Regions from separate parts of the Homo sapiens genome. Here all the other regions are linked to region 1. Evidence: fine-mapped expression QTL. A gene starts in region 1. Each other region holds a variant in brackets. All regions are shown on one strand. Distances are between the middles of the regions.

What was found. PIP is the estimated chance that this variant, and not a neighbour inherited with it, causes the effect.
Region 2: its variant is fine-mapped to the expression of THSD7B in subcutaneous fat (FUSION, PIP 0.95).
Region 3: its variant is fine-mapped to the expression of THSD7B in lung (TOPMed, PIP above 0.99).
Region 4: its variant is fine-mapped to the expression of THSD7B in left ventricle (GTEx, PIP above 0.99).

The regions. Positions count from the first base shown.
Region 1 is chr2:136,761,084-136,769,433 of GRCh38, reverse strand. It overlaps THSD7B (thrombospondin type 1 domain containing 7B), which reads right to left and starts at 3,889. Exons shown (of 28, transcript NM_001316349.2): 1 at 3,747-3,889. RefSeq lists an enhancer at 3,406-3,907.
Region 2 is chr2:136,883,684-136,892,033 of GRCh38, reverse strand. All of the region lies in intron 2 of THSD7B (thrombospondin type 1 domain containing 7B), which reads right to left. Among named protein-coding and RNA genes, the nearest start is that of THSD7B, 120 kb to the right of the region's middle. The variant A/CACAA (reference allele first, on the strand shown) is at 4,734.
Region 3 is chr2:136,740,134-136,748,483 of GRCh38, reverse strand. No RefSeq gene overlaps it. Among named protein-coding and RNA genes, the nearest start is that of THSD7B, 21 kb to the left of the region's middle. The variant T/C (reference allele first, on the strand shown) is at 4,257.
Region 4 is chr2:136,789,688-136,798,037 of GRCh38, reverse strand. All of the region lies in intron 1 of THSD7B (thrombospondin type 1 domain containing 7B), which reads right to left. Among named protein-coding and RNA genes, the nearest start is that of THSD7B, 28 kb to the right of the region's middle. The variant A/G (reference allele first, on the strand shown) is at 3,354.

The sequences.
Region 1 (8,350 bases):
TTGGGTTTCACTAATATCTGATTTTCCCTTTCAAATGAAATGCTTGATGTGGTAGCAACAAAATGATCATACTAAATCACCGGTGGACTATAACCTGGCAAAATAACTACGTCTCTATATTTTGTATAACTAGCCCATACCAGGATTCATGGCTTAGAATGAAAGCATAAATGTAGGAATTCAGTGGCTGGGATTCCTATTTCCTTTTGTCAAGAGATACTTACAAGATGACCAAAAACTACCTAATCCTCCTTGGCTTCATTTCAAAAATAGCCACTGTTAGCTCTCAAGAATAACCACCCATGAACATCCTACTAAAACGTCCACAAAATAATCTCGGTAGATGGAGAAGTTTTAAAGGGTGGGAATAGAATGCTTATCATCTTGGAGCACAGGTGCCTGTGATTTTAGATCTGTTAAACTACAGACCCCACTAAAATTCACAATAGTAAATTTCTAGACTAGAAGTGGAGTTAAAAATCCCTCTACTTTCACAGGTTTAACGTGCTAATTATCACTTAGATATTAATCTTGTTAACAGCTCTAAATTAAGGACCTGTGTTATATTTAGGAAGCTGCCTGGTGTTAAAGTTAATGAAGCAGCTTCTTTTATAGTTATATACTGGGAAACATTTTCTTTTGAAAATATGAAGCACTTATGTGCAATCCATATTCAAAAATCCAACAGCATATCTAAGTAACTCATGTAGTTTTTGATAATACAATACCCAATAGTTATTCAAAGACCCAGCCTTTATGCTTTGTCTGTAGAGCATCTCTGAAGCCTTAATAGTGCTATTCTTTTTTTCCCATCAACTAATATAGTTGTCACTACTTAGAATTCTTTAATCTGTTTGTCTTAATCATGTATTTAATATATTGTATCATTTGTCATTTTCACAGTTAACTAAATAAGACCAGTCAAATATTCTTCATCATTCTATTCAAACTTTTGACATAATGTTATTACTTTAATGCCTAATCTTTGTAAAGTGTGCAGAACAGCAGAATTGAAGTTTTGGCAAGACTTTTTTTCTTTAAAGGAATCATACAACTCCAGTTTCAATTTGTGAAGTATAATTAAAGTGAGTTGACATGCTTTAGAATTGTTCTTGTTTGGACATTCTCCCTCCTTTAACTTAGAGCCTATCTTTTTATTCTGCTTTTTCGGTCTATCATTTAAGGACAACATTCTTTTTGCTGATATTAACAAAAGAGTTATTCCTTCAGAAATAGGATCTGTAGCAAGCAGACAAGGTCCTTCATAGCCCTTCTGATGAAGTACAATTTAGTACCATTTTCCTTTCATTCCTTCCCTACTTTCTCTCAAAAGGCACACTCAGCAGAGAACAGAAAGGTACCTCTCGTTACCAATTTGTTAATGTCAGTCTTCAAACAGTAGAGTCTGTATTTACATTGTTTATATGATCGGTAATTATTTTCTACCTGTCTAACAGTGTTCCTCTTTCTTAGCCTTTCAACTCTCTAACAATCAACAACTTTGATGGAAAACAATGGGCCAGAAGATTAAGAAATATTGTAAGATCATTTCTCAAGTATTGATTTAAATATTAAGGTTGACATAAAGTGAGCTCATCGTATTATGAACCCTCAAAACAGACTATCAAAGTCCACCAACAGTAGACAGCCCTTTCCTGGACCACGTATCTCCAAGCCCTTATCACAGATTAATCTAGAATATCCAAAACCCTGAATGGTTTGTAGGTGTTCAGGGCTGCTGGATCTGTCTGTGCTGATTTATACGAGACTATCCGATGTTTTTAAAGTCAACAATGACACCTACAATTTTTTCAGAAGTATCTGTGTATATTGTTACAGTGTCAGAAGAATTTTCTTCATAATTTTTTTCACTTAAATTTGCATGAAAAAGAGTTTCTAACCCTCAACTCTCAGCAGGTAGATGAAGAAAACACACACACACAAATACACACAACACACACACACACACACACACACTTCCCAGGGATAGAAAATAAAACAATTCCAGGGAATCTACCAGATTAGATCAACTACCCTCAGAAAACAGAGAACTGGCCACATTACTTTTCAAAAGAAGACTCCTATTATTAATGGCACTAAGGTTTAAAAACAGCAGTCTGTCAAAGTGAAGCCTCAAGACAGAAACTTTATAAACAGCTTTTAACCCACAAAGACACGAGCTTTCACTCACCACTGAGTAAGACTTCTTGATTTGGTTAGTAACACCCTAAGTGGCTTTCAGGAAGCCTTCACCAACTGCTGAGTAGACAGTCAAGAGCACAAAAAGGCTTCCCTGGAGATTACCTCCTCCTAGTTACTCGAGAAACTCAGATTGCCCTGACACTGCCAGACAAATAACTGTATCCCTTTGACATCCAAAGATTACCTGTCAAAAGGAAACTCCAAACACACACGTTCACACGCACGCGCATGTATACACACACACACAAACACACACACACCCCACCACAGTCTGGTTGGCATGAGCCCTACCTGCATGGGTTACCATTTCCATGATAACAGAGCACTCACAGGTGTACCGCTGAGAAACACCAGGCAGACCGTCATTTAAAGAGCTCCAAGGAGTCTGAGGGTGGGAAACTGCCGGCTTTCAGCAGACCACCCTGGCAATGAACAGAGCGCCAAGGAACCCTGGTATCTTCCGTAGAATATGCCACGGTCCCATAATCTTAGTGGAACTTCACCTTGACTGTACAGTATTGAATCGCAATACCTCTTATGGGAAGCTCTGAGCTCAGACATTCCAAAAGAAAAAAGTACCACCTTCGCCAACGAAAGTTTTTTTCTTGTCTTTAAAAAGGGATAGAGTGAGAGAGCTTAACGCCCCCTCCTCAACATTCCCTCGTCCCCTGCAAAGTTTTCCAACTTCAAAATACGCGGTCACCAAAGAGCGGGGTTCATTTGCTTATTCAAATAACTTTAATACTATGGGACATGTAAGACAGCAAAGGGGACAGGTGCAGATGGGCGATGCAGTAGAAAATATGCCTGTCCCCCCCTCCCTGCCCCTCACTCTCAAGCCCCGTTCCCAGTTTCCTCTCCACAAACAGCAGGATATCACGTCCGAGCCCAGCTTGCCCCTAGCCACTCGCAGGGACAGGGGAAATGTAAACTGTTGCTACAGCCTCCTGACACTCCACCGATAAATCAGAGGAAGCTGCAAAACTTCTTGGCTTGCTCAGCTATCCTCCACTGGCACTGAACGCCTATGCACAGATTTCGCAGTCAGCGCTACGGGAAAGGAAACCCTCAGTCAACCTGTTTGCAAAGCCTGCAGAACAACTCCCGGCCTTTCGATTTTGGGCGCCGAGGCTCTCCGCGCAGGACGGGAAACCCCCGGTTTCCTTCATCAGTATCCCTCAAACCAAGCTGGAGGTGAAGGGAACAGAGCTCCTGCTGCCCGGGTCCCAAGGTTCGGTCCCGTTGCATGAGGTCGGTGCTCAGGTCGCCGCGTGGGGCGTCCCCGCCCGCCTAGAGGGTCTCCGCACACTGCGCCCCGGGCAGCCCACGCTTCCCGCAGCCCCAAGCCAGAGGCGTCCGAGAAGATCCGCTTCCAAGTTCCCGCGTCTGGCTGGGAGAAGGGGCGACGATGGCTGTCCGGCGAGGAAAGAGCAAAGTCTGCGCCGGCAGCGCGCCCCCTTCCCCGGCGCTGCCACCCCGCGCCCCAGTCGGCCGGCCAGGGGGCCCGGCATCCCCGACTCGGGGCTCCGCGTGCTTGCACTCACCCGTCTCGCCAGAGCCGCCGCCGTAACCTCTGGGAGCCGCTGAGCCCCGAGCTTCCCGAGCGCAAGAAAGATGGTGGTGTGTGTCGGAAGACCACCCATTCCAGCGTCTGGCAACCCGGCGGCGACTCTGGCTCCTCAGCACTGAAGGAGGAGGAGGAGGAAGAGAAGGAGGAGGAGGAAGAGAAGGAGGAGGAGGAGGAGGAGGAAGGAACGGCGCAGTCAGACGCCATCTGCTGTACACCTCTGCGCAGCCATTGGCTGCCTGGTGCGTCCGAGAGCCGCGGGGCGCGGGGCCGCGGGGAGCCACCTTGCGCCTCGCCTACCCCGGCAGCTGTTCCCCACCGCCCCCTCTTTCTCCCCCCTCTCCTCCGCCTCCTACCGCCTCTGCCGCGCACCCGCACGACCCTCGGCTCAGCCTGCTCCCCAAGGCGAGCGACCGCGGGCGCGCTGGCCTGGACCTCAGTTCCTCTGCTCCCCGCAACTGTTTGCCGCAACTTTGAAGCTTCGGGGTGCCGGTGCGGGCTGGGTAAGGGGACTCCCCAGCTGAGCTCAGCCCGGAGTACCCAAGCCACTGAGCCCAGGAGAGGGTCGAGCGCTTTGCGCCTCGGAGGTCCATGAAGTGATGGGGGAAGAGAGCAAGAAAGAGTGGGGGTGCCCTAGGCCCCTGTTGATAACGCGCCCCAACACGCACACATGCGCGACACTCCGACACACAGTAAAACACACACACCGAGCCATCCCGCAAGGTCCGGATGGTCTGGCGTTCCTCTGCAGTCCCCGGGCACGAGAGGGCTTCGGTGTTACTAGGAGAAAAGACAAAGAAAATCCTATCTGGGGAGTACCCCTAGCAGCATACGTGGGGGAGAGAGAAAGGGAAACATTGTGGTGACTCCGGGAAACGCCGGGAGCTGGGTGCATACCTGCCTGGACATCCCCCCTGTTGCGGGGCTCCCAGCGACTGTCAGCCCACGCCCACCAGAGCCTGGGAAAACCCCTAGCTCTGGGGCCTCTGTTTAAAGGATTTGCAGTCCCGGGGCGCGGGGACCGGAGTTGCGGGAAGGAGCGCCTTAGGCTCCTGGGTAGCTCATGCCGGAAGCAGCAAAGGAGGTGGAGAGTCCGAGTCAGCCCAGGTGAGGCAGGAGTGCAGACAGCGGAGAGCACGTGGGCAGTCGAGGAGCAGAGTCACAGCTCAGAAAGTCGTTTGCTTACTCTCTGACACTTGTTCCAAACCCTTCTGGTTTTTGACACCTTTGATCTAGGGAACTTCTTAAGCTTGTTCAGAGAGATGAAGTTGCTTCAAAAGGGAGAAGGGGCGGGGGGAAGCATGAGGACTACCTATTGCCAATTACAGGATATTTTGCCTGTCAAATCTCTTTAAATGTGTGAGCCCAGCGACAGCAGGGATTGTATCTTTTCTATTTTATCCAATGCCTGGCACACCATGGGTGCTTAAAATGAAGCAAAATAATAATGATAAAATTAAAGCTTGATGTCATAGAGCAAATTAGATTCAAGAGATAAATAGAGAAGCTAGGATCTGTCACAGATAAAAAGAAATCAAAAGAATGTAAGTGCCATTGTAAAGAAAGATGTGAATATATTGGTAAGGGGCTTCAACTCAGCTTGCTGTGGGATGATGGGTTCTGAAAGCAGGGAAGCCTTACTTAATATTTTAAACAGCAATCGCTATTCTCCCACTACAGTCACATTCTGGGTTATGCTTTTTTTTTTTCCTGACATCACTGTCTTAAAAATAAATCAGCTGCCAACCAGATCCCAGAATATTTTCTTAAATCCAAGACCATGATTTATTACTCTCAAGAGATAAAAGGCCAATCCTGTGACCCAGGGGAGAGAGAAACTGGTCCATTATGTTTTATTGTAATCTCAATATATACAGATCAATAGCCAATGAGTCTCATTTAAGTAACTTCAGGAACAACAGCCAAAGAAAAACATTTCTGTTTTCTTGAACTATTATACCCAGGCTTCCCAGGTTTCAGTTTTCCCAGAATCAATGCTGCATTTTCAGGCCACACCCCCTGCACACACACCCCCATATGGGAGAAAGACTTGTGTTTGCAATCTGTCTGGAAAAAAAGATATCAAGGATGACTTCTGAGTATGGCATGTATGGACATCTTAGTAGTTATTTGTCCCCCTCCCTCACCAGAGACAATGATACGTATATTTTCCTTTAGGCTGGCAATTTGCTTTCAACGTGCATTCTGATTTAATATGCCAGCCCATTCTCATTAACCCTTTGCTCTACGTCAGCAATCACTTACGATACCCAAGAATACTTTGATTCTTAAGACACAACTTTTCTCCTCTGAGGCATTGTTTGTGTTTGGTCTCCTGGTTTTTGAATCTAGGATATGAGATTATAGTCATATGGTAATTCTGTTGGGCTTCTTAAAATAAAAAAGGAGAATGAAATCTAAATTATTTTTGAAAAATAAAGAACCATGAATGTTAAACTTGTTACATTTGATTCCTTTAGAGAACAATCACTTTTCATTAAGGCACTGCTGACAACATATATTTCAGTATAGTCAAAGAGTATAAGATGTCTGAACTTTATCTGTGTGATTACATACAAATTTTGTAGACGGAGAATGCAAGCACAAGACTCATTCTAACTTTCTCTTTCCATTTCTAGCTCAAATTCCCAATTTATATTTTAAATGTATATTTTACTCATAATATGAGTTTCTTGCCAACATAGTTAGCTTTGGTTCTTAATAAAAACACTGCTCTCAAAATCTAGATTAGGTTAGAAACATTAAAAGGATAACCTAGGCAGGGAAAGGAATATTAGTAATGAAGACCGTAAGAGCAGGAACAGAAATTTTTAAAAATAAGTGAACAAAGAAAGGATTTGGAAGAAGGTAGGCTTGATTAAAAAAAAACAAAGGTGGCATCATTATGTGTAAGAAATAGTTGAATGTGCCAGGGTTGGAAAATAAGCTTGAGATTAGAAATTCCCATAATCCTGCACACACAGATGCCAAAGGCCCCAATCACCACCAGACTTCCAATGAGAATGAACAAAACAAAAATACAATGGCAGAAGAGAGGGGATAGAAGGAGAAAGTCTGTTGAGATTAGGTCTCCATTGGGAAGACCTAATGAGTCTTCCCATTAAGGAATCACGGAGAAAAGTAACCCTATGCTAGCCAAGTACAGGCAGAGTGTAAATTTACATTTTTGTTGTTGTCGTGTGTGTTTGCCACTGCTTTTTCTGAACATGATGTTCTCCATATAGTCTAACAAGCTTGGATGGGAAAGTGCTATGGAAATGAAATAAACAATCAGTGGCATTAAACAAGGAAGAGCTAAAGAAGGCACATAGATAAAGAAGCCCAATCTAAAACACAAGTGATAAATGCAAACATAAGCCAGTATCTTGGACTTGCCACCCAGGGAGTTGCTGCCCAGGTCTACAATGGCCCATCCACTGAAGCAGCGAATTGAGTCAAATATTCAGTCACTCTGGGGGACAAAATAGGAGGAAAGGGGGAAGAGAAAAAGAACCATGATTGTCTCATTTACACAATTCATTCAGGCCAGTTCCAGGTTGGAAGAGATTCTGTGGCAAATCTGAACATTTTTTCTGCCAAAAAAGAACATTTAATCCTGGCATATAAATGTAACTTTTGAGCTTGGTCCAGTAATTTGATTTTGATGTGTCAACATCTTAAAATACAATGTAAAGATAATGTATTGAAAAGTAGTGTAGTGGAACTCCACTGGCTTCTGGCCCAGTTCAGTCCCTCTGAGGCACCAATGCTTTCCCAGCAGACGCTCAACACTCACAAACGAAGTCCTGAACCATCAGCTTCAGTCATTCACTCAGCAACATATTTGATTAGTGTCTACTATGTGCCTGGCACTGCACTAGGTATTGGTTATTCAGTGATACAGAGTCCCTGCCCTCATGGCATTTATAGTCTAATGCAGTGACAATAAACAGGTATGCAAATGATCCTAAATATATAATATGAAAGAAAAGGAAAAGAGTCCTGCAATAAAAAAGGAATGCAATGGAGCAGGGGTAGAAAGGAAGGTCAGAACCAGGCAAGAGCTCTCAGAGGAAATGACATTTAGGCTGAGACCCAATCATGAATGAGAGGTAACATTTATGAAGATTTTTCTAGATATTAGGCAACAGGCTAAATGTTATATATATATATATATAATTTAATCCTCATAACTACCCCAAGATGTGGACACTATTTTCAACTCCATTTTACAGTGGAGGCATACAGAGTTTACGCAACTTATTCAAAGTCACACAGCTGATAAGTAGAAAAGCTAGGATTTGGCCAGGCAGTCTGGCACTAGTGTGTGCATTTTTAATCACCAAGATACACTGCATCTCATATAAGCAGGCATCAGCCAAGAAAGGGGAAGAAGAAGGATACATGGCCAAAGAGCCTATGGCTGGAAGAGGTTGGCACATGAAGAACCCATCGGGGGCCAAGGTAGCCGGAGATGAGTAAGCCTGGAAAAACTGCAGTGCAGTGGGATAGGAAAGGCAGGCAGGGGCAGAGGGGCAGGTGCTTGTGACCAATGGGTGGTTTTATCTCTTTGAACAATAT
Region 2 (8,350 bases), 120 kb before region 1:
CCTGAAGAATTTCAGCTGTTCCAACCCCAGCTAGTTAAGTCCTCCCAGCCCAGGTGCCAGCTATGTGAGTGATGAAGCCCTCCAGATGACCCCAGCCCCTGAACCAGCTGATTACAATGGCACAAGAGAACGAACCCAAGTGAGAACACTTAGCAGGGCCTAATGACCCACTGATGTGTGAACAAAATTGGTGTGTTACTGTTTTAAATCACTATTTTGGGGTGAGCTATTACACAGCAATAGAGAATTGCAACATGGATGGAACTGCTGTGTCACTTGTTTGAAATCTGTTGTTCTGGACTTCAGCTCTTACCTCTTTTCATCAACTAGAACATGGAAATGCCTGTGACCCAGCTTGGATGGGCAGAGAATGATGATGTCTTTCCCGAATATGAAAGAAAGGTGCCTGGCTGAATGGACACAGGGAGCGGAGCCTCCAGTCTGGACCACTAACTACATGATTTCACATAAGAGAGGTCTGAGCTTCTATCTTTTTAAACCACTGTATTTGGGAGCATCTTTGTTACAGCTGCTTAGCCTCCACCTTAAAGAATAGACTTCCAGAGAAAAAACTCTGGGTATTGATAAATATAGATTATTTGAGGGACCCATACTCTAATAAAAAAGCCAGCTCTCCACACAAAAATATTTTGACAGTGAAGCCCAACAGCTGAGTCATGTACATGGAATGTTGAATCAGTTTTAGTGCCTCGCTTTTAATAATGTGAAACACTAAAGAGATAGCCAATAATTAATAGACATTAGAAGAAAGCTCACTATGTCAGGGGCCATGATCAAACACATAAATGAAGGAAACAGGAAAAAATGACTCAGAGGAAGCAGAGAATGAAAGGAAAAAGATTAAACTGTCCTTAATATCCTCTGAATGAAAAGTCACTACATCTATGAAACAAGATGAAATTTAAAAAAATCATAGAACAAGTAAAAGACCTTACAAATTAAAAAAAGGGATTGTAGAAATAAAAAAAGTTCAAAATAATAGTTAAAAGATGAAGTAGAAAAAAAATTTAGACATTAAAATAAATATACAAACAAAACACAAATATGGAAATTATCTAAAAATTGAAGATCAGTAAGAGAGGTCAAACCTTTGTCTAAGGAGTTTCAGAAGGAATTCACACAACAGAGAAGAGGAAATTGCATAAAAAAAAAATCTCAGAAGTGTAGGACATGGCCAGGCACGGTAGCTCACGCCTATAATCCCAGCACTTTGGGAGGCTGAGGCAGGTGGATCACCTGAGGTCAGGAGTTCGAGACCAGCCTGGCCAACATTGTGAAACCCTGTCTCTACTGAAAATACAAAAACTTAGCCTGGCATGTTGGTGGATGCCTGTAATCCCAGCTACTCAGGAGGCTGAGGCGGAAGAATCGCTTGAACCCAGGAGGTGGAGGTTGCAGTGAGCCGAGATCACACCATTGCACTCCAGCCTGGGCGACAGAGTGAGACTCCGTCTTAAAAAAAAAAAAAAAAGAAGAAGAAGAAGAAGAAGAAGAAAGAAGAAGAAGAAAGGAGAAGAAAGGAGAAGAAAGGAGAAGAAAGGAGAAGAAAGGAGAAGAAGAAGAAGAAGAAGAAGAAGAAGAAGAAGAAGAAGAAGAAGAAGAAGAGGAAGAGGAAGAGGAAGAGGAAGAGGAAGAGGAAGAAGAAGAAGAAGAAGAAGAAGAAGAAGAAGAAGAAGAAGAAGAAGAAGAAGAAGAAGAAGAAGAAGAAGGAGTAGGACATGGACATGAATGAGCAATGAGTACACCAATCGAAATATCCTACAAACATCTAGCACCATAAAGAAAACAGGCTTACCTCAAAGCATATAATCACGAAATTTCAGACTTCATGGATAAAAAAAGATGCCAGAGAAAGAATAACAAGCAAACAGGTAGCAATGTGCAAAAAGTCGGGATCAGAATGGCGTCAAATTTCTCAGTAATGGCACTGGGGACTATAATACAATAGGGCAAGACTTTCAAAATTCTGAAGGAAAAAATGCCTTTTAACCTTGAATGTCACACCCAAGCTATCAATCAAGTATATGACAAGCACAAAGACCCTTTCAGACATCAACGGATTTGAAAAATTACTTCCAGTACACCCTATTTTAGCAGTACTAGAGGATGCGTTTAGCAGTTCTGGAAAACACGACAATAAAGGCAAAGAAGAGAAACAGAACAGGAAACAAGGGATTCAAGATGATCGAGAGCAAAAGGATGTTCCACAGATGATGACTATGCAGGCTGTGCAGGGGGACAGGACTGTGGGAAAATCTCCCAAAGAAAAAAATATAATAGAGCACTTGGAACTGCGCTTGAATCTTTGAATAAATTAATGATGGGCATGTGACATATCAGATGGAGCCTTGGGGAAAAGCAGCAGTAGGTTCAAAGAAAACCAAGCAAAACAATAAAGAAGGAAATTTTTCATTTCCATGTAAAAGAAAAAGCTGAACAAGAAAGGATGCAGGTGCACAGCACACTGCTTGGCTCAGCAGCGGACACTACAAAGAGTATGGGCACTGTTTGTTGATTTAAATATTTTGATAGAACTATTCTGAATAACTGTAGTAAGGAGGAGAGGAGTAGATCTAGGAGACATAAATCCTTAACTAACATAACAGAGAGTCAATAGGAACTATCTAATATCTATCAACTAAGAAGTATCAATCATGAGCATATTACCTAGAAATATGAAGGTGAATATCAGAATAAACAGCAAAAAGAGCTGAAACTGTCTCTTTATGTAAATGAACTGGAAGGTGAGATATAACTATAATATCTTGTTATAAGATTTAGAATAATATTTAAATCTTTAACTATGTGAGCCTGTTTTTTAAAGATTGAGTTCAACCTCTTTTCCAGAGATGATCAGAAATGGTACTGGAATAAAGTGACATGGAAATACATTTTCACATTTACTGATTTATAAGTTTGACTTTAATTTATAGTCATTTTATATCCTCTCCTCAATATATACTACAAGCTCTAGAATAAGATGGGTCATATTTTCTCTTTCATCTCTTCTCAACTCCCCTAAATACATGTACACACACACAAGCACACACACACACACACACACACACCCCAAAAGACAGTGTCCCTTATTTTATTTAATGTGCTGGGGATATTTTTCATATTTTATTCTTATTATATAGGTTATGTATATTCTTGACACTTGGAGTATATTGGTGAATAAAACCAGCAAAATGCCCTGTCCTCAGGGAGCCTATATTTTAATACTACTTAGAAAAAATATAGCAGAGTAATTTATTTTATGCAATTTAGGTAAGATGGATGTTTTTCTGACCTATTGGAAACCTTGGAAAATTAGTGACTGTGGTCTATAAAAAAATTAGAATTTTTAGTGGTGAACTCCAGGCCATATGTCTATACTTTTGGATATTGCTGATTTAACACTCATGCCTCTTAGATAAACCAATATCCATGGAAGTAATTAAAATGATGTCAACATAAGTAAAATTTCCAGAAAAAAATTTCATGAACTTCTAGCACATATTTTAAAAAATAGCTCTCTCCTAAGAACATTTTATTTTCTCTAAAATTCCTAACCTTTAATATATAAATAGGTAATATACATAATGCAATTTTTTCCTTAAAGTACATTCAATGCTGAAAACACTATTATTTAAGCTATAACTAAATATTAATATATGTAAGATACTTTATTCCTTATGCAATGCAATTTTCATAGTCTCTTTTTTCCAAAAATATTAATTCCAATTTATATACTTAGTTCTTAGAAACAGGTCATTATCCTCACCCTTTTTATTCATTGAGCATGAGCTACTGAAATTAAAACTTTCCTAGAGTTTGGCATATATAAAGTTTTAGACCTAAAAAAGCCAGTGAAATAATTTTGACCATTTATTAATAAAGTGCACATATCTGTCAAATAATCCCCTCTTTTTTGTATGTCTAAGAGAAGTATACAGAAATTGTATAACATAAAAGCACAAGTAAATATTTTAAACCTGAAATTATTATACAACAATGATAGAAATAGTAGCTAACAGTTATTGAATAGCCACTATATATTAGGTATTTCAAAGTGTCTTACTTAATTCTCAAAGAGTCCTGTAAAGTGTTTATTATCAATATCCATTTTCAGATGGATAAATATGGCTCAGAGAGGTTAAACAACTTTTTCCCCTTAGACAACCAGGATTTGAACATTTGTTTACCTGTATTAGTATTAGTCTGTATTAGTGTTAGTATTATACTTGTATTAGTATGTTTTCATTTCTCAAAGGAATACCCAAGACTAGGTAATTTATAAAGAAAATGTTTAATTTGGCTCATGGTTCTACAGACTGTACAGGAAGCACAGTGCTAGCATCTGCTTCTGGTGAGACCTCAGGAAGCTTACAATCAGAGAGGAAGGCAAAGGGAGAGCCAGTGTGTCACATGGCAAGAGGGAGCAAGATGGGGGGTAGGTGCCATTCTCTTTTAAACAACCAGATCTCTCAGGAACTAATAAAGCAAGAACTCACTCACTACTGCCAGGATGGCACCAAGCCATTCTTCAGGGATCCCCCCTCATGATCCAAACACCTGCCACCTGACCCCACCTCCATCATTGGGGATTACATTGTAATGTGAGACTTAGATGGAACAAACATCCAAACTATATCAAGAGTAATCTCTTAGGATGACTGAAGGCTATTTTAAAAGCCTGTCACACACACACACACACACACACACACACA[A/CACAA]CAAATATGGAGTTTTCTTCTATTTCAGAACGTATTATTCAAAACATAATTTGTTTTCCAGACTTTTTATAAGCTCACTTGCAAAATATAGCTTGGGGTGATGAAAATGTTCTGAAATTAGATAGAGGTGATGATTCCACCACACTGTGATGTACTAATATCACTGAATTGTATACTTTGAAGTGGTTAAAATGGTAAAGTTTATGTTGTGTATATTTTGCCACAACAATTTTCTTTAACATCGTTTCAGTCCTAAAAGGAAATATATTAGAATTTTATCCTCTACCTATGCCAGATCACAAATTTCAAGCTAATCTCTTCATTTCTAGGACTACATATTTAAATCCTACCTCTTTGGTAGTAGCTCTCAAATTTATATCTCCAGCAGAAACCTCTCTCCTGAATTCAGACCCCATAACTTCCTAGTCGACACCTCCACAAGAATTTCTAACAGAATCAAAAGTGTAGCATGCCCAATTCTGAGTGCTTAATATTCCCTGTATACCAGCTCCTTCTCAGCCCATATTAAATGACAGCAACTCCACTCTTCCAGTTGTTCAGGGCAAAGTCAGTATCACCCATCCCACATCAATAAATCCTGATGGCTTTATCTTAACTCAGGGTTTCTCAACCTGGGCACTGTTGAGATTCTTTGGGCCTGATAATTCTTTATTGTAGAAGACTGCTCTGTGCATTTTAGAATGTTTATCAGCATCCCTGGATTTTACTCAACACACATCAGTAGCACCCCCAGTTTTGACAACCAGAAATGTCTCCAGGCATTGCCAAATGTCCCCAGCACGGCAAAATCACCCTTGGTTGATAACTGTGGCCTTAAATATAATATAGCCAAGATTCAACTCCTTCTCCGCACCTCCACTGCCATGGCCTTGGTTCAAGCTATCACCATGGCTCTTCCCTTTAATTCTGCAGTAGCCTCCTACCTCATCTCCTTGCCCTGCTCTTCTCAGCCAGCCACCCACAAGGATCCTCTTCAAATCTTATTGAAAAGAAAGTCAACAAGAAAGTCAGCTTATGTCACCACCCTCTCAAAACCCTCCCATGTCTTTCTATCTCACATAGAGTAAAAGACAAAATCTTATTCTGACCTATGAGGACATACCCCATGTGGACCCCGTTACCCGTCTCACCTGAGCTCCCATCACCCTCCCCATGTTCACTCTGCTCCTGCATGCTGGCCTCCCCACATGTCCTCAAGTATGCCTCCCACACTCCTGCCTAAGGTCCTTTGTCCTTCTTGTTCCCACCATCTGGGATGTTCTTCTTCACCTTGATATATCTACAGCTGGCTCCCTCACTTCCCTCAGGTCTTTACTCAGATTCACTTCCTCAGGCAGCTCATGGACAACCTCCTTAAGCTTTTAGTCTCCCTGCTCCCACTGCATATCCCTCCTCCTGGCCTCATTTTTCCTTCTTACCACTCGCCCTCATCTAGCATACTCTATTTAACTACTGATCATGTTTATTGCCCTCTTTATGAGGACCGAGGATTTGCCTATTTTATTCTCAATCAATTTATCTCATGTACTTGTAACAATGCTTGACACACAGTAAGGACTCAATAAGTATTACTAGAAATAAGTGAACCTCTTAGAACCAAAACTGAGGAATTTTTTAAGAGAGCACAATTTACTGTGGGATCAGAGACCATAATCTGTTCATCTCCACAAAGCAGGCAGGCATGAATAGTTTTATATTGAAACTTAAAACCGCAAACAACATTGTCCCTTATCTGATACTGTTGCTGACGTGATCCTTCTTTCTTGACACAGCTAACAGAGTGTCTGACACCAATATAGATTATAGGATCTCATCACAATAATGATAGGCATTTAACAGCCTTGACAGATCAATGACCTTGCAGCCTACAACTCAGCAGACTCTCCCTCAGTATGGAAATCCTAAAAAACATAATACACTCACTTATTATTCATCAATCCATTGTTTTTCCAAAGCCAGGACTCACTTAGAAATGCCTGTAATTTGGATGAGGTTGACTAACATCGGACCTACCGATTTGGGGTGTGGGGGTGGGGAACAATAGACACCAGCAAAAGAGTAAAGTGGTTGACACAGCAATCAAAACCCAGAGAATGGTTTCTAGGTTTCTACAATAAAGTACAGTTATCTGGGTCTCCATGGAAATCTGTTCAAATTCCAAATTACACTGGACCTGAGTTCTTGGATTTGATAACATACCCTAAAAATACAGCTAATTTCAACTGCAATACAGTGTTAAAAATCAAAATGAAATACACTAAACTCATCCGTAAATAGGTAACAGATTCTAAGATGTTGATGTTGTCTTCAAAGGTTATAAACTAGAATTTTTCTAGGGATATAACTCCTTAAATCAATTTATTATTGCTTACCTTTAAAATAATACTGCATTCATGTCAGCATTATTTATAATAGCAAAAAAACTAGAAACCACTGAAATGCCAAGCAATAGAGGAAGAGAAGATAAAGCAACAGGAAAACTAGATAAATTTATTAAATAAAAATGCTAAAGAATACTATGCAGTCATTAAAAGATGAGGTTGGCCTATGTGCATTAATATGTAATATTCATCAATATATCATTATATGATCAAAGATAGTTGCAGAAAGCAGTGCAGAGTATGATTCCACTTACATGAAATATGTGTGTATACATACATGCACATATGGAAGAATTAAATATTTTCAGGTGCACCATTCTCCATCCTGCTTCCTGCTCAAGATGTTTACCTGAATGGATATATCCATGGGCTCCCCTGCCTTGTGGTTTTTGGTTGAATTCATCCAATGGGAGGCCTGGCAGATATGAAAGCTGGAGGAAAGTGAGGTGGAGCCCTTCATTCCCCTGGCCTCCTTCCTATTTTGCTGCAGGTTGGCTGTATCCCTTTAAAAGCCACAGCATTTGTCAAGCACCTCTCCAGATTCTGGGAACCACTCTTTCTCCTGGCCCCTACATACCCAGAAGTTGTAGAGGCTCCCAACTGATACAGTTCAGGGTCACTGCACAATCCCTTGTTCCTGTCCTTACACACTGCTCACACTTGCCTACTTTTGTAAATGTCCTTCTATGAAACTCTTCTCAACTGCCGACTTCGCATGTGCTGTTTCTTTTTTAACAGAACCTAATTAATAACTATATGTGTATCTTCTGTGTGATTCATACACATAAACATGCATAAATGTGTACTTACATGTACAAGGAAATTTTCTGAAGGATACAAAAGAGATTGGAAAGGGATACATTGGAGCTTTTGTTCTTAATTTTGTACCTTTTAGATTTCTTTCACTTTTAAAATGTCAGTCATACATAAGTAATCTGCTTTGAAAGCAAAACCAAATAGGAAAAAATTATATTGTTACCTTTTTGATGGCACTGTAAGGAGGGAAAGAAGTAATGAATACCAGGAGAAGTGACAGTAGTGACTTATATGTTCATTTTAAACAATGTGTTATGTATGATGAAAAGGATCCTCACTTCTGAAACTTAAGTTTGACAGTTACCAAAAAAATTCATCCACTGTAGAGTTTGTTTTTACCATCTTGTTCCAATGACCTACTTTTAGAAAAGCACGCTTATTTTAAAACTTGCTTCAAAA
Region 3 (8,350 bases), 21 kb after region 1:
GAAGACATGGGGAAGGCCAGAGGCCAGGTAAGTACAGACATGGAATAGAGGGGAAAGGAACTAACACAACTGGGCTGTGAGAGCAGGGCTGGAGGTGGTGAGAGAGGGTAATTGTCGCAAACATAGAAATCAGCCAGAACAGCAAAGCTCCTTGGATCTGAGTGCCAGCTGTGTGCAGCAGCCACTGGCCTAGTTTAAAGGCACAGATACAGAGAAGGTCCGCCCACCCTATGAGATGTGCATGTATTTCCCCTAAATGAAACTTCTAGGGTGCCATTTTAACAGTCAATAAGGCAGTAAAAGCACCACCAAAATTACAAAACTCCAACAATAGCTTTTAAGGAAAACAGGCCTGTCCTTTTAAGAAGCACACATTCAGCAGCTTATGAAGAAGGGATGAAAGAACAGTTCCTGCTCTCAACTGGCCCTTGGAGTTGACCACAAAGTGCTTTAGAACCAACCCTCTGATGCATAAGCCATCACACAATTTTGCGTTTGCAGATTTAAGACAATACTTTCATCAAAACATGCCTCCTCCCAGACAGGCTTTCAAAGCAATAAGCAAAATAACAATCTTTTGTGAGCTTTACAAAATGTTAACTGGGAAACCCTACTGTTTTTAATTGTGCCTGAATAAATGCAGACCAGGATCTCCGGGTACAAATAAAGTGGTTTATCTCTCCTCTCTGCCTCCAAATCAGTTTTGCACTGATAGGTGGCCATTCCCAAAGGCAAAGGTGACATGCGGCAAGATTGAGGCAAATCATGGAGCCCAACCACTGTGAAAACCATTTCACAGTAAACTGATAACTTAAGAATACTATTGTTGTGGCTATCCAGATAATTTTCCTTTCAATCATTCTCTATTTCTAAATCACCACCCTGTCACATTAAAATCGTAGGATTGGGGAGCTGAATTGGATCTTAGCGTCCTCGAACATGGGAAGAGGAGGTACAAGAGAATCAGCAAAGGAGCCTTTTAAAAGTGCATATTGCTTGGGCCCCATCCTGAGCCCACCCCACTCCAGGAATCTTAATTCAGCAGGTATTTGGTGCATCCAAGGAATCTGTGCTTTTAATAAACCCCTTGGATTATTCTGATGTTTGGCAGGTTTGGGGAATACTGTCAGGTTCAACTCTCTCATTTTGCAGGTGACGAAACTGAGAACCAGGTAGGTAATTCGCAGGACTGCCAAAGCTAGCATCCTGACCTCCACGCTTAATTTATTTTGATTACTCAATCCTATCATTTTTTCACTTGATCAACAATACCATATAATGTGTAATAGTAGAATATACTATTCCAGAGTACAAGCCACCAAATGCATAATAATCCAAAATTCAGAGCTAGTATCTCCTCTATTTTCTCCACTCCCCATTGCTGTTCATTCTATCCCATGTAAAAATGCATTAGTCTCCCTGATGTTCCTAACCACCAGCCTCCTGGCCTTCACGGGGGAGGATGGAAAGCTTCTCAAGAAACATGTCAGCAATGACATTCCATAATTATCTTTTTTTCCTTTTAACCTTTTATAGCTTTGTTGTTCTTGACCTCTCAAGTAGTCTCCAGTTACATCCCCAAAAGAAAAATGACATCATTATAACTCAGGGACATGGATGTGTTGCCTCAGCAGGGCTATTGGCTGGTCAACCAATGTCAACTGGTGTAATGGCCTTTTTACCCACATATGTACACGCTTTTTAAGAGGAAGTTGATTTTAAGAACATATCTACTCTTTGCTTTGGTTTCCCTTATTGAATTCTTGATTTTCTAAGAACTCATGTGACTAATTTATTCAGAAAACACATAGCATTAAGAAAGAAAAAATGTAACCATTAAGATAGTGGTAAAGTTTTGTTTGGGTTATTTTGAGGGATAAAAGATACCAAAAAATCTCAAAAAGGTTAATTTATCTTTAGGAAAAGACCTGTTCCCATTCATGAAAATATATCCAAATCCTGGTTGAGTTATTGTAACTTGCTATTCTGCTCTGAGGTACAAATGTACTTTTACTTTGTCTATTTCTTTTTAGGCATTAAGACAAAAAATAAGTATATAAGAGCAGGTAATCCTAACAGCCATGGCTTTCTGGCATGGTGTGCCTGCTGTTTAATCCAGGAAATATATACTCTGTTTTTGTGTCTTAATAACCACATTACTGTCCTTAGTATTATCAAGTTAGCAAATGTGTTTCCATAAAAGATCCCAAATCATATTATATTTTGTCTTCTCCATCTATCAAAATCGTATCAGCTTTAGGGCTCACACAGTATCGTGCCACCTCTGAGAAACACTTCAGAATGATCCAGATTCCACTCTTCCTACACATCTAGCATCACATGCGGTCTATGTCTCAACTCCTTAAAGTGTGGTCCTCATACCAGAAGCAGCAGCATCACCTGAAAGCATTTAGAAATGCAGAATCTCAGCACCACTCCAGACTACTGTATTAGAATTTACATTTTAGTAAGATTCCCAAGGGATTTGTATGCACGTTAAAGCCTGAGAAGCACTGCTGTATACCGTATGACACTTCATTAGAGTTGGCTTCAAACCTTTTGTCTCCTCCAATTCAATTCTTACACCTTACAAGGAGCAACTTTTGTGTTCTCTCAGCATTTGGTATTATGGGAAGTCTAGAGTAGAGTTTAAGAGGGTAATTGTGTAAGAAACTGTTGGTTATCTGTCCACCAACTATTTCTCTTTATATCTTGTTAATAGTAATTGCATAGCTTTGAATCAGGAGGTATGTCCAGATGCCTACCCCATCTCCAGCCCCATCTAACCCAGGGGACAAGTCAGGACTGGTCAGTGCTAATCATGGTGATGCCACTTGTCTTCCCAGTGTGTCTGGGGAGCAGGGACATAAGCATGGGACACAAGCCCAACCAAGTTACCAATGAGGGAGACAGGTGGCTCCTGGGAAGGACTTCTGAACAATTACAAGAGATATTAGGCTACAAAACCTCATTTTCTGACTATGGACATTTAGTAATGAAGATACAACCCCTAAAACTAAACAGACCATCTTGTGACTTGTGAAGGGAGTTAGCCCAGGAAGCATATTCAGAACTTTCGAGTGGAAAGTTGGAAGGACCTGGACCTCCTTGGGCGTGATTGTGCCATTGAAATTGCCGAACTTGTGCCTGCTTTACCTCCAGACTTCTTGCTATGTGACATGTAAATCACATTATTAAGCTATTTGAGTTGGATTTTCATCACTTAAAGCAGGAAGTCTATTAACTAATAAAACTGTTGACTGAAATATCAGCCAATAATTGATGGTGTGCATTCACACTTTACTTTTACCATCTCATGCAATTATTATGTCACTTCTATGAGGAAGCCACTGTTGTCCCCATTTTACTGATGTAGAAACTATAGTTCAGAGAGATCGAGTAACATATCCAAGATTTAGTACTTAAAGCAAGGTCTCCCCAGTGTGAAAGCACAGGCATCTTTTTTCATTCTCCTTCTATGATTTGACTGGTTAATAGCCAAAATAATTTGCTTACACTGTTTCATTGAATCTGATAAGAGTGGTCTTTAGGAGGATTATGCTGTAGCTCAGAATAGGGAGGAGAGCCCTTTTATAGGTTTTCTTGAGAGTGGTTTATTATTTGCTTTACTGATGACACTGCAAGAACAGATGCAAGAGTTATTGAAAATGGGAATAGTCTCATCCTGCAAAGCTCTATTCCCAAAGAATCCTGCAGCATGCCAAGCAGGCTTGAGATGAATAAAATAACGAAGCTCCTGTTTGCAGAACTATTCATTGTTAAGAGATGTTGTGTTATAAAATTAATGAATCTTTCTAAGAGAGTTGATAACAGTGAACCAGTAGCCAATTCCTGACACGTACACATGGATCTGAAGGGAGATGAAACCTCTAAAAGTAGTGCCAGAGGAAAACATAATACTGTACTTCTTTTAATCTACAAGTTCACTTTGAAAGTCTGTAGCTCAGCTTTAAAATTTGCCCAATTTAAAACAGCATCTACATTCATTTGTTCAGATGTTTTGTCTGAAAGAGGAGATAAAAAATATTAAAACACGCGGAAGTTTCCAAAAACACTACTTAAATATTTTATTTGCCATCCCCACGTGATGGACTGGTAGAGACATAGCCCTTGAAATAAGGCCAACAGTTCGCTCAGGCTGGACTCCAAAATTATAGGAGATAAAAGGTTTTTTTGACCAATCTTTATCTCCCAAGGGAGTGTAATTCTTATTCTTAGAAATGTCATTTCCCAGG[T/C]GTTTACAGATATGTAACAAGCAGCAATGCTTCCGAAATAAAAGGAGAACATGAGCTTAGACACAATTAGCAACATTAAAGGCAAGAAGCTGGCTTTCCACCAAAATAGGGCCATGTTCTCACACAAACTAAATATCTCCAGACATTGGTCTTGCACTCTCCATGTGTGGGCTATGCTTGGAAGGTCATCCATGTAGACAGAATGCTTAACCTAGCTGCTAATTAGGTCATTTAGTCAATACAGTGGAAAATTCAGTCCCAGTGAATATGTAATGCATGTAAACAGTCTGTCTTTTTTCATTTTGACCTTAAAAATCTCTCAAATCTATTGTTGGAAGTGACCAATTATTTCAGTTGAAAGAATTGAACTCATAATTCTGTGCAGACACAGGCACTGCTGATTAACTCCGGAAATGGCATTAATTCACTCAGCATTTTATCCAAAATATTCCAGTTTATCATCTTAAAACAAGGACTCTGACTCATTATTGTGAGAATCAGAAACTGTTTCTCATTCTCAAGCCAATAGAACAACAACAAAAGACTTATTTCAGTATTTCATCTCCTGCTTTAATTTCTGAGTTCTGCACTGACATTCTAGTAATTAGGAGGAAGACAAAAGATGTCTGAGAATAGACAAAACCTAACTGCTAAAGTTAAACATGTTCTACCAGTTTGCCATTAACACAATCACAGAATTTAAATTTTTTCTCTTCCTAATTAAGAGTTAATTTAAACCCAACTTTTTTGATAGCTCAATCCTTCATATTAGTCAAAGAAAACCTATGATATGATTGATGAATTTTATATATTTTTGGAAAAGAATCTCCAAAATATCAAGTAATTTTATCATGGAAGATTTAAAAAACTATAGGCATTTAGAGAAAATTAGAATCCTGAACCTACAATCAGTTTTAAACAGAAAAGCAACTTAATAATTAATAAACTGAAAAAATACTGATAGACATTTTGATTAAAATGAATATATACAATTTTATTTTTAAATTAGGCATAAACAAATGCCATTAAAGTGAGACATGTTATATTTAACACCCACATACATATATCTTCATTAAGACTAAAGTAATGGAAAAGGTGAGTGAGGGAAAGGAAGGATGAAGAGAAGTGGGTTAAAGTATACAAACAGGAGGAATACATTCAGTGTCTGATAGCAGAGTGGGATAGCTATAGTTAACAAAAATATATTGTACTCAGATGATGGACACTTTAAATATCCTACCATGATCACTATACACTATATACACGTAACAAAATTTCACACGTACTCCATAAAGTTGTACTAATAAAAATTAATTAAGTAGTTAATTCCTTAATTAATGATATATAAAACATGAAATAATTCAAGAATTAGATATCTAAATATCTGAAATCCCAGTTCCCTTTTGCTTTGTAGAGTTTATATCATTTAAAAAAAAACCTTAAATTATGACATGACCTTGGAAAAAGAGATGAAAATTTTCACTCACTATTTTCAGCCAATGAGCTCTTAAATTCTCACTAAATAATAAAAGCCTGTCACTTTAAAATACTTCACTAAGTAATAAAGGACCATAAATTTTTCATTATTTAGATTACATATACTGCCTGCTCAGTAGTGTGTACATATGTTCCTCTACTTAGGATGAGGTTACATCCCAATGAACCCATCAGAAGCTGAAAATATTTTAAGTTGAAAACATTGCAAGTCAAGTGCATTTAATACTCCTAACCTGACAAACATCATAGCTTAGCCCAGCGTACATGCTCAGAACATTTACATTAGCCTACAGTTGGGCAAAATCATCTAATGCAAGGCCTATTTTACAATCAAGTGTTAAATATCTCATGTAATTTACTGAATACTGTACTGAAAGTGAAAAGCAGAATGTCTCTCCAACAGTGCCCAGCATCACAGGAGAATATTGTACCACATATAACTAGCCCAGAAAAAGACCAAGATTCAAAAGCAGACATAGTTTCTACCAACTGTGTCTCACTTTTGCACAATGGTAAAGTCAAAAAATCATTAAGCGAGCCATCATATGAGTCAGGGACGGTCTATAATTACACATTTGAATATATATTTTTTTAATGTTCAGCATACTTATTAAAGTGAATTTCACTCTTTTTAGAAGATGTTTAAAACAGACCTGAATGACAGTTGAGTCTCAAATTTTTCCTCATTGTGAATGTTGCTTTCAATGCCCAAAGCTTCTGCCAGCACACTCACAGTATTTATAGAAATATAGACGTTCTTTATAGAGGCTTACCAGGAAACCTGTAAAAGCTAATATTACACTGGCTATTCTTACAGGTGAATAAGGGTTTTCTTCTGGAGAGGACAAAAAGTTGTTATAAATGTGAATTCTAATAGCTATGGGGGTAGGAGAATAGAAGGCATCTCTCTCTCTCTCTAAAATCATTTTCCACCAGTTCAGAACACTTAAACAATCTTTTGGTCCAAAAAAATTGTAAGGAGTGCTCTATTCTGAACACAATTGCAATTCAAGACATCTATATTTCATTTTCCTTCTCTAGTTAAAGATTTGCTGACCAATCTAAATCCAAAACGTTCTGTTCTTGGAGTTCTGCTTTAAGAGAATGGTTTACACAATATTCGAGAGTAGGAAGAGACAGCAAAAATGATCTACTCCTACAATTTTTATTACATTTCAAGGTTGGGAACCTTCTGTGTTCTTTTTATTTCCCTAAACCCCAACAGCTGATGTGATATGAGAACAGAGTTCAAAGGATGTGCAGCAGAAGCAATTAAAACAGGCCTACTATCACCAGCAGATCCTTGAATTCTCACTTGAAATTTAGTTATCAATGCATTAGATATTTTACATGTGTTTGTCATCTTCCCAAGTTTGTGAGCAATGTGACTGCCTGGGTTTGTTTTTCTTGGATGTCCTCCAGCCTATTTGACACCTCTGTGCAACACTGCATATTCTCTTGACCCCACCCCTTGCATTTGGCTGCAACTTAACAATGCCAACGCCATGCCCCAAACTCAAGCTAAAGCCCCAGTCACGTGCCTCTTTCTTCTTGCCCATCACTGCCTGGGAGTCGCTGAATAAATACTTCCCTTTTAAGACAATTTTGAGACATATTTCATAAGAGTCTCCAGAAGTCTCTGACAAGAGTGAACACATCATCTGTAGCTGCAGCCAACTTGGTAAACTTTATTTGTTCTCCTTTATTTATTTATTTCTTCTATTTTCTCAGCCCCTACTCCTACTCTCGGAGGTCATTTCTCAAATCACCCAGAACTCTGCATTCTGACTCCAGCTCTGCTTTGACAAGGACCTAGCCCAAGACATCTAGAATATAATAATCATAACCATGGTTACCTCTGGATGTAAGCCTGCCATAGGCTAGTTACTTTATTCAGAAAACAGCCATAAAAAATGATGAGTTCATGTCCTTTGTAGGGACATGGATGAAATTGGAAATCATCATTCTCAGTAAACTATCGCAAGAACAAAAAACCAAACACCGCATGTTCTCACTCATAGGTGGGAATTGAACAATGAGATCACATGGACACATGAAGGGGAATATCACACTCTGGGGACTGTGGTGGGGTGGGGGGAGCGGGGAGGGATAGCATTGGGAGATATACCTAAGGCTAGATGACGAGTTAGTGGGTGCAGCGCACCAGCATGGCACATGTATACATACGTAACTAACCTGCACAATGTGCACATGTACCCTAAAACTTAAAGTATAATTAAAAAAAAAAAGAAAAAAAAAGAAAAGAAAACAGATCTTCCTAAATAAGAAAACTGACGCTGAGTGATGTAGTAATGATGTAACTAGGATTCGAACCCAGATCTGCTAGAAACGTCAGCATTGCCTTCCATGCAGTACTGTTCAGAACTGTAGGCATCATAAACTTGACATTAACAAGGCTTTACATTTCAAAGTGCTTTCAGGTTGTCTGGGGTACTTCTTAATACTGACAAGAATAGCCACTATTTATTAAAGGCTTCTTATAGGCCAGGTTCTGGGAGTATGTGTGATTTCATTTCATCTTTTCAACAAACCTATGCAGTAAGTCAGACACTATTTCCCCAGTTGTGTGGGTGATG
Region 4 (8,350 bases), 29 kb before region 1:
GGAAAGAAAAAATAAGTCTACTGGAATGCATAATTTTGCTAGATACTTGTCTAGAATTATAGTAGTGAGAAAGTGACTTGTCTCATATATAAATCACCTCCAAATAGAAGTCAGACATAACAAACAGCAGGACAGAAAATTCACCAGGCCACTTAGTACAGGTTTGCAACAAATCTCATATACAAGTTTTGATGTTAAATAACTGTAAGTATTTGCATATGGTAGAGAGTACTTGGCAATGTCATTTTCCTTCTAAGGTACTAATGCTCTGAAACAAGCATCACTTGGTACCAGGCTACATGCATTGTTTGAATCATAAGACTGAAGGAAAAAGAATAAAAAGAAAACCATGACTTGTCCCCCAGTGGTTCAGAAAAATGCAAACGCCAACACTCAATAAAAATGATTAAAATGTGCATGAAATTGTACTGCTTTCCATTTCACCAATCTCAAAAAGACCATGAACAACATTATGTATAATCAATGGCCTACCCATCTGCAACGCATGAACAAGCTCGTTTTAACTAAGCCCTACTCTATGGTCTTTCTGTGAAGTTCCATCTGCACTAGTAAGACTTCACTAGCCAGACATCTTCTTTGAGTTTATTCACTCAGATGGAGTTGCCTATGGAAAGACTTACGCCTTCTCCAATGGTTTTTAAGTCCATTCATTCAAAACATGGAAGGGTTATTTAATTTGTGTGGTTTAGTGACTCATGGCCTTCAGAGAGTGAGAGAAAGTGTTTATTTACATCTTTCCCTTGACTTGAGGGAAGAAGGGGATGATGGTTATCTAAACCAACCAGCAGAAACTTGAATAATTATGATAATTTCTCACCCACTCTCAATAACTTGTTCCAGCATTTGAAGGTCTGTGATATACAGGAGTGTCTCTCTATTGTCCTTGAAAAGTCCCCAAGTGAACAAAATTTGGTTTCTATAAAAAAAGTTCCAGACATTTCACTTATTCCTAATTATTATTTCTTTTCATGACAAAAACAAATGAGTCTTCAGTTTTTTTAGGTTGTGTGTGTGTGTGTGTGTGTGTGTGTGTGTGATCAAATATGATATCACTATCTTGGCCAGTAAAATTGGTAGTTATACCCTCCCAAGCTCTTCCAAACCTTATTTATGGCTTCTTCATATATGTCCCAGATATAGAAGCAGAGAAAGTTATGTTTATAATTTTAAATTACTATTAAAAAACACAAGTCTTTAAAATGGAAGCTTTTTAAGGAGAAAGATAAATTCATGACTTCAGCCTTCACAGAAATCATACTGTAACAGGCTTATAACTTCATAATGGGTCTTTTTCCAAACCTAAACAAATATTGACTTTAGAGGAACTCAAAACTCCCAGAATTGATAAGAAGCACAAAGGTTAAAATACTGGGGAATATTTCAGTTTTATAATTTAGAACTTAATCTCTGAAAATCTTGAATTAGATTTTATCACAACTGAATGACTCTCTACTGTCACCTACAGGTAGCACCCAACACTCATAATCCCCTCTGAAAAGGTTTTAAGTGGGGCCTTGGTAGAGCTAGTCTAGTTTTGAAAGAAAACTCCTCAGACCTGTGTGAATTAGATGGCTGCAGAGGCTACTGTTAAAATTCCACGGTCGCCAGCAAGTTTCCATGCGAGGTCAAAATTTACAAACCATCCCACGAAGAAATTACCAGATCATAGGAAAACAAGTGAAAGTGTCCTCAAAGACCAGTGGATGCCATTTCCCTGCTCAGGCCAGTGTCCCTGGCAATCAGCCTGCCATCCTCTATGCCAGTTTCTTTAACTTTTCTCCCTCATAAATAATATTTCCTGTCTTGTGTTTTTAGGATAGTTGTAGAGGTCATGGAAACCTGTAGAGGTCCTACGGAAACTACTTTTAAAAAGGGATACATTTCAAAATTCATACCTAAAAAAAAAAAATCAAAAAGCAGTAGGAGCAATAAAGTTTACATGAACTAACATTTCAGAGAGGACAGAACACTTTTTAGGTGAGATGAGGGTAAATGAGAGTAAGATATGATTATGTGTGTATGTAATATGCAAATGAGGCTGATAACCAAAGGGGAAAAAATAAAAGCAGACTCACATATGATCCAAGTATTAGAGTTAACATCCAAGGACTTAAAAAATGTATATGATAAAACTAATTCAAGATAAACTATAATAAGTATGCATGCTGAAATCTCTCCAGTAACCACTAAAATCATAAAATAATGCATAACTAAAAAGATTAGAAGAGAAAAATAGAATAATAAAATACTCATTTAATTCTCAAAAAGGCAAGAGAGAGGGGTTGGAGTGAGAGTAAGTAAAAAATGCAACAAATAGAAAATAAAGGCAAGATGGTAGACCTGAACTCATCTGTGCCATTAATTGTATTACATATAAATGGATGAATAGTCAAATTAAAAGACAAAAATTGTCAGAATAATAAAAATGACAATACCTAACTATTTGCTAGTGTAATAGGCAGGATAACGGCCCTCACAAAGATGTCCATGTCGTCATTCTCAAGACCTGTGGATATGATACCTCACACAGCAAAACGGACTTTGCAGATGTGATTAAGCTAAGGATCTTAAAACAGAAAGATTATTCTGGATTATCCAGATGGGCCCAACATAATCACAGGAGTCCTTCTGAGTCAAACAGGAATGCAAGAGAGTCAGCATCAGGTGGATGCAACGTAAGGAAGCCTCGAACAGCCCCTTTTAAGATGGAAGCAGCCATGAGCCAAGGAATGTGGAGAGCCTCTAGAAGATGAAAGGCAAGAACATGCATTCTCCCCTTGACACTCCAAAAGAAATACAGCCCTGCTGACACCTCGGTTTTAGCACACTGAGAGCCATTTTGGACTCCTAACCTCCAGAACTGTAAGAAAATTCATTTATGCTGTTGTTAAGTCAACGAGCTATGACAGTTTGTCGCATCAGCAATAGGAAATTAATACAGTTGGCTGTAAGAGAAATATCTTAAATATAAGTATATAGATAAATTAACGGTAGAGGATGGTAAAGGTATATCAAGCAGATGTTAACCACAAGAAAGCAGGTATGGCTATAGTAATGCTAGACAAAGTAGACTCTTGGACCAGAAGTTTTACTACACATAAATAGGAATATTTTATAAGTGTACAAGTGTCAATTTAACTGAAAGACATGGATATCCTAATTCTTTTTTAATCTGAGGGAAAAAAATAGAGAACTAGACAAATCCACTATCATCATTGGAGATTTTAACAACTCCTTCTCTCAAGAACTGAAAGAATGGCAGACAAAAATACTTAAGGATGTAGAAGATGTGAAGAACACAATTAGCTAAACTGTCCTAATCAAATATGTAT[A/G]AAACGATACTCAACAACTGCAGAATCCACATTCCTCTCAAGGGCATATAAAACATTTCCAAAATAAAGCATGCATTTGGTCATAAAGCAAAACAATGAATCTCAAGGGATTGAATCATACAGATTATGCACTCTGCCCCCAGCGGAATTGATTTAGAAATAAAAAGCAGAAAGATAACTAGAAAAATCCACCAACTTTTTGAAAATTGAGTAATATACCTCTAAATAAGAAAATAGGAAAAAAAATGAAATTACAAAATGTTTGAAGTGAATGAAGATAAAAATATAATATATTAAAACTTATGGAATGCAACTAAGGCAATGCCTAATGGGAATTTTGGCTTTACATGTATATATTAGAAAAGTATAAAGGTAAAAGATCAATTATCTAAGCTTCTGCCTAGAGGAAAAATAAAAAAAATTTGAAATTTAAGAAAACATAAAAAGGAAATAAGAAAGGTAAGATAAAAATTAATGACACAGAAAGCAGATATACAGAATTCAATATAGTCAGACTTTCTTTGAAAAGATTTGCAAAATTTTTGTCTAGTCTCACATAGCAAAGCTGAACAAGAAAAAAAAAACAAAGCACACATATCAGGAATTAATGAGGGGCATCACCACACGGAAACAGATAATGAGAGAATATTATGAACAAATTTATAGCAATAAATCTGTCAAACTAGATGAAAGGGATACATTCACAAAAAAAACACAAATTACCAAAATGTATGAAAAACAATGAAAATTTGTATCTATAATTTAAAACCTTTCCACAAAAGCCCAGAAGGCTTTACAAATGAATGCCTCCCAACATTTAAGGAAGAAACAACACCAAGCTTAAACATACTCCCTTATGGAATAAAAAAAAAAGTAAAAATACTTTCCAATTTATGTTATGAGGCTAGGATAATCCTGACACTGAAACCTAAGAAGGATATTACAAGAAAATAAATTACACATCATTATTCCTCATAAACAAAGATACAAAAATTCTAACCAAAATATTAGTAAATGAAATGCAGCAATATATAAAGAGATGACACAACATGATCAAGAGGTATTTATTCCAGTGATGCAAGATAGGTTTAACAACCAAAAGTCAATCAACATGGCATAAGTAAGACAAAATCTGTGAGTTTTGGTGTATCAAAATTAAGTAACTTACTCTTCAAAGATGCCATTAAACAAAGCAAAAGATAACCCCACACACTGGGAAAAATATTTATGAACTACGTATATGATAAAGGACTTCCAACCCAATTTTTAGAATGGGCAAAAGTTGTGAATAAAGACTTTACAACAGGAGATACACCAATGGAAAATAAGCCATGAAAATATGCTCAACTTCATTAGTCATGTAGGCAATGCAAATTAAAACCAAGATGAGATACCTTACATAAACACAAGAATGGCTAAAATCAAAATGATGGACATTACCAAGTATTGGCAAGGTTGTAAGGAAACTGGAAACCCTATTCATTACTGGTAAGAATGCAAAATGCTACTGCTATTTTGGTAAAGAATTCAGCAGTTTCTTAAAAGTTAAACTTATATTAAAACACAGCAATTCCACTCATATATTATTTACTTAAAGAAAAAGAAAATATATGCCCACACAGAAAGACGTGTAGCCAAATGTTTATAGCAGCATTATTCATAGCAGCCAAAAACAGAAACAATTCAAATCACTTTCAAATGGTGAAATAATCAAACTGTGACATATCAAGACAAAGGAATACTACTCAGCAATACCAAGGAATTAACTACTGATAAATGCAATAACATGGATGAATTTTGAAAACATCCTGGTAAGAGAAAGAAGTCTGACACAAAACATTGTATTTGTATGATTCCATTTCTATAAAATTTTCAGGATAGGCAGTAGGAGATAGGAATACAGAGACAGGAAAAAGATCAATGGTTATTTGGGTTTGAAATGGGGATTTATAATAACAGAGGCTGATTAATGGGGAAAATAATCCCAGAGGAACTTTGGTTTAATAACCTTTATTTTTTAGAGCAGTTTTAGGTTCACAGTAGAATTAATACAGAGTGCTCACATCTCTCCCTGTCTCCCCATCAGCACAGCCTCCCCAGCATTCCACCCACAGTGGTACATTTGTCACAATCTATAAACTTGCATTGGCACGAGACCATCACCCAGAAGCCCATCGTTTACACCAGGGTTCACACTTGGAGTTATACATTTTATGAGTTTTGACAAATGTACGATGGCAGGTATCCACCATTATTGTTTCATACACAATAGTCACACTGCCCTAAGAATATTCTGTGCCCCATCTATTGATCTCTCTCTCCCTCCCCCAGAACTCCTGGCAACCACTGATCTTTTCACTGTTTCCATAGTTGTGCCTTTTCTAGGGTATCATATAGTTGGAATCATTCATTATGTTGCCTTTTCAGATTGGCCCCTTTCACTTACAATTTGCACTTAAGTTTCCTCACAGAGGAAATTTTAGGGGGTGATGGAAGTCTTCTAACCCTTGGATTGAATCCAGGAATTTCAATCCTAGATTGTGACATGCAAAAATGCACAACATCATTAGCCACCAGGAAAGTACAAATTAAAAGCACAATGAGATGCCACTTCATACCCAGTAGGATAAAAAAGACAGATAATAACAAAGGTTAGCAAGGAGGTGGAGAAATTGAAACCCTCATACACTGCTGGTCGGATTGTAAAATCATGCTTTGGAAAACAAGCTGATAATTCTTCAAAAGGTTAAACATAGAGTCACTATATGATCCAGAATTCCAATCCTAGGTATATACCCAAGAGAAATGAAAACATGTCCACACAAACACTACATAAATGTTCGTAGCAGCATTATTCATAACAGCCAAAAGAGCAGAAACATATAAATGTTCACCAACTGACAAATAAAACGTGGTGTATCCATACAATGGAATATTAGTAGACAATAAAAAGAAAGAAATACTGGTACATATTCATGAACACAGATGTACCTTGAAAACATGCCAAGTGAAATGAGTCAGTCACAGAAGATCATGCACTGTATAATTCTATTTATATTAAATGTCCAGAATTGGAAAATCTATAGGATCTATAGGAACAGAAAGTAGATTAGGGTTGCCTCGGATGGGGGGCGGGGGAGGGAGTGGAGTTGAGAGGAAAGGGAGAGTGATTGTGAATGGGCATGGGGTTTCCTTTTGGATGATGAAAATAGCTTAAAATTTATTGTAGTGATGGCTGCACCACTTCATATATATACTAAACACCATTGTATTGTACGTTTTAAATGGGTAAACTCTTTGGTATGCGAATTACATCTCAATAAAGTTGTAATTTTTTTTAAAAACCCTGTTTTTTTGATGTCATTAAAATAAAATTACCGGGTTGTGGAGATGGTTGCATAACTATTCCTTGCCAGGTTTCCTTGCCCAAGAGCACTGACTACTGGTATTAAAAAGTGTAGTTTTGTATTTTTGGAGGGGAGAAAACCTAGAAGTTGCTATATCTTTCTATTTTATCCTATTCATTTATTTCTGTAGGATCCTTAATTATTCCCTCTTTCTTCTTTCTTTCCAATTATCACCAACTCTCCAATGGAAGCTCCCCATGTCAAGTCACCCTTCTCCACCAGATGCAATGTCTTCTTGAGACAGCCATGTCATGTCCCACAAACATCCCAGTTATTTCCTTCCAGTGCCCCAGTAGCTGGCACACTGGTCTACAAAGTCTTAGACCTCCTCCTAAGGCCTCCAATGTCAGTGGTACTTTCCCTCTATTGAGTGAATATTTTCTGTTTCCATCAACTCCCGCTGTTTCCCCTCTCCTCTTTTCTCAGTTTCCTCTGCTACACTTGGGTGTTTCTCTATTTAGAGGTAATACACAGTTTGTAGCGTCCTTGGTCTCTAGGTTATGTTGTGATTTTATTTGCTCTTTTTGTTGATCTGTATTTTTTCTCTGGAAAACCTGGATACATTTGGATTAGACATCCTAAGTACCATTTTTACTACCCCCAATATGCTAACTATCATGGCAGAGATAAGTATAAATTACAGTCTTTGAATCTCCAAAAACTTTCATCTTTTTATGGAGAAAATATTTTAACACAGACAACAGGAAAATAAGATACAAGGCAGTATATAATTGAAAGCTCTATTACCTACAGAAATTGTAAATGTTGTAGAAATTTGCAATAAAAGTGGAGATCACTGTGACTTAAACTATTGATAAAACATTCATAAAGAAGGCAGGATTTTACTTCAACTTTGATGAACAAATGTGATTTTTTATAGAATTGAAATCTAGGTTTTTAATAATATCTAGTTCAGTAGAAGTGTCAGGGCACTATTTGAATATTTTAAGATATTAAATAAGGTGGTTTTTTTCTTCTATTTTCCACTCTTTTCTCTATTAACTCAGTGGGGTTTATTACCTGTGGTGAAACATAATTCATCAAAAGTGAGGACTGGTGAAGGCGAATCAAGTTTCAAAACCTGTTCTCTAAGGAAACCCAAGGCAAGTAGAATGTATAATAAACACACACACAAACACACACACACACACACACACAAACACACACACAAACCAGGAAAGATTCCCAAGCACTAGGAGACCACAGAGAGTTAGAAAGGGTAAGCTTACAATTTGGTAAGGCCCTGAGAACAAAGCTCCTTCCCCTCCCAGGCCATTAAAGATCCCTAATGGGTTTAAGAAATAAAAAAAGACAAAATCTGTCTACAGAGGGCTCCATCTTTTCTATCAATTAAAATTGAAGAGTCCTTTGCTCATGCAATGAGCTTGGTATAAAGTAACATATTTCCCATTTTCTAAACTAGCCCCTCCACAAAGAGTTTGTGGTATCCATTTTAACTTTGCTGTTGTTTAGATACAAAAACCAATCTTGGAAACAAAATCAGTTTTTGTAACATTTATTCATCTGTCCCTAATTCCCCATAAGAAAATTCATTACTCTCTCCTCTAGAGTACTCCCATAAATGTCACA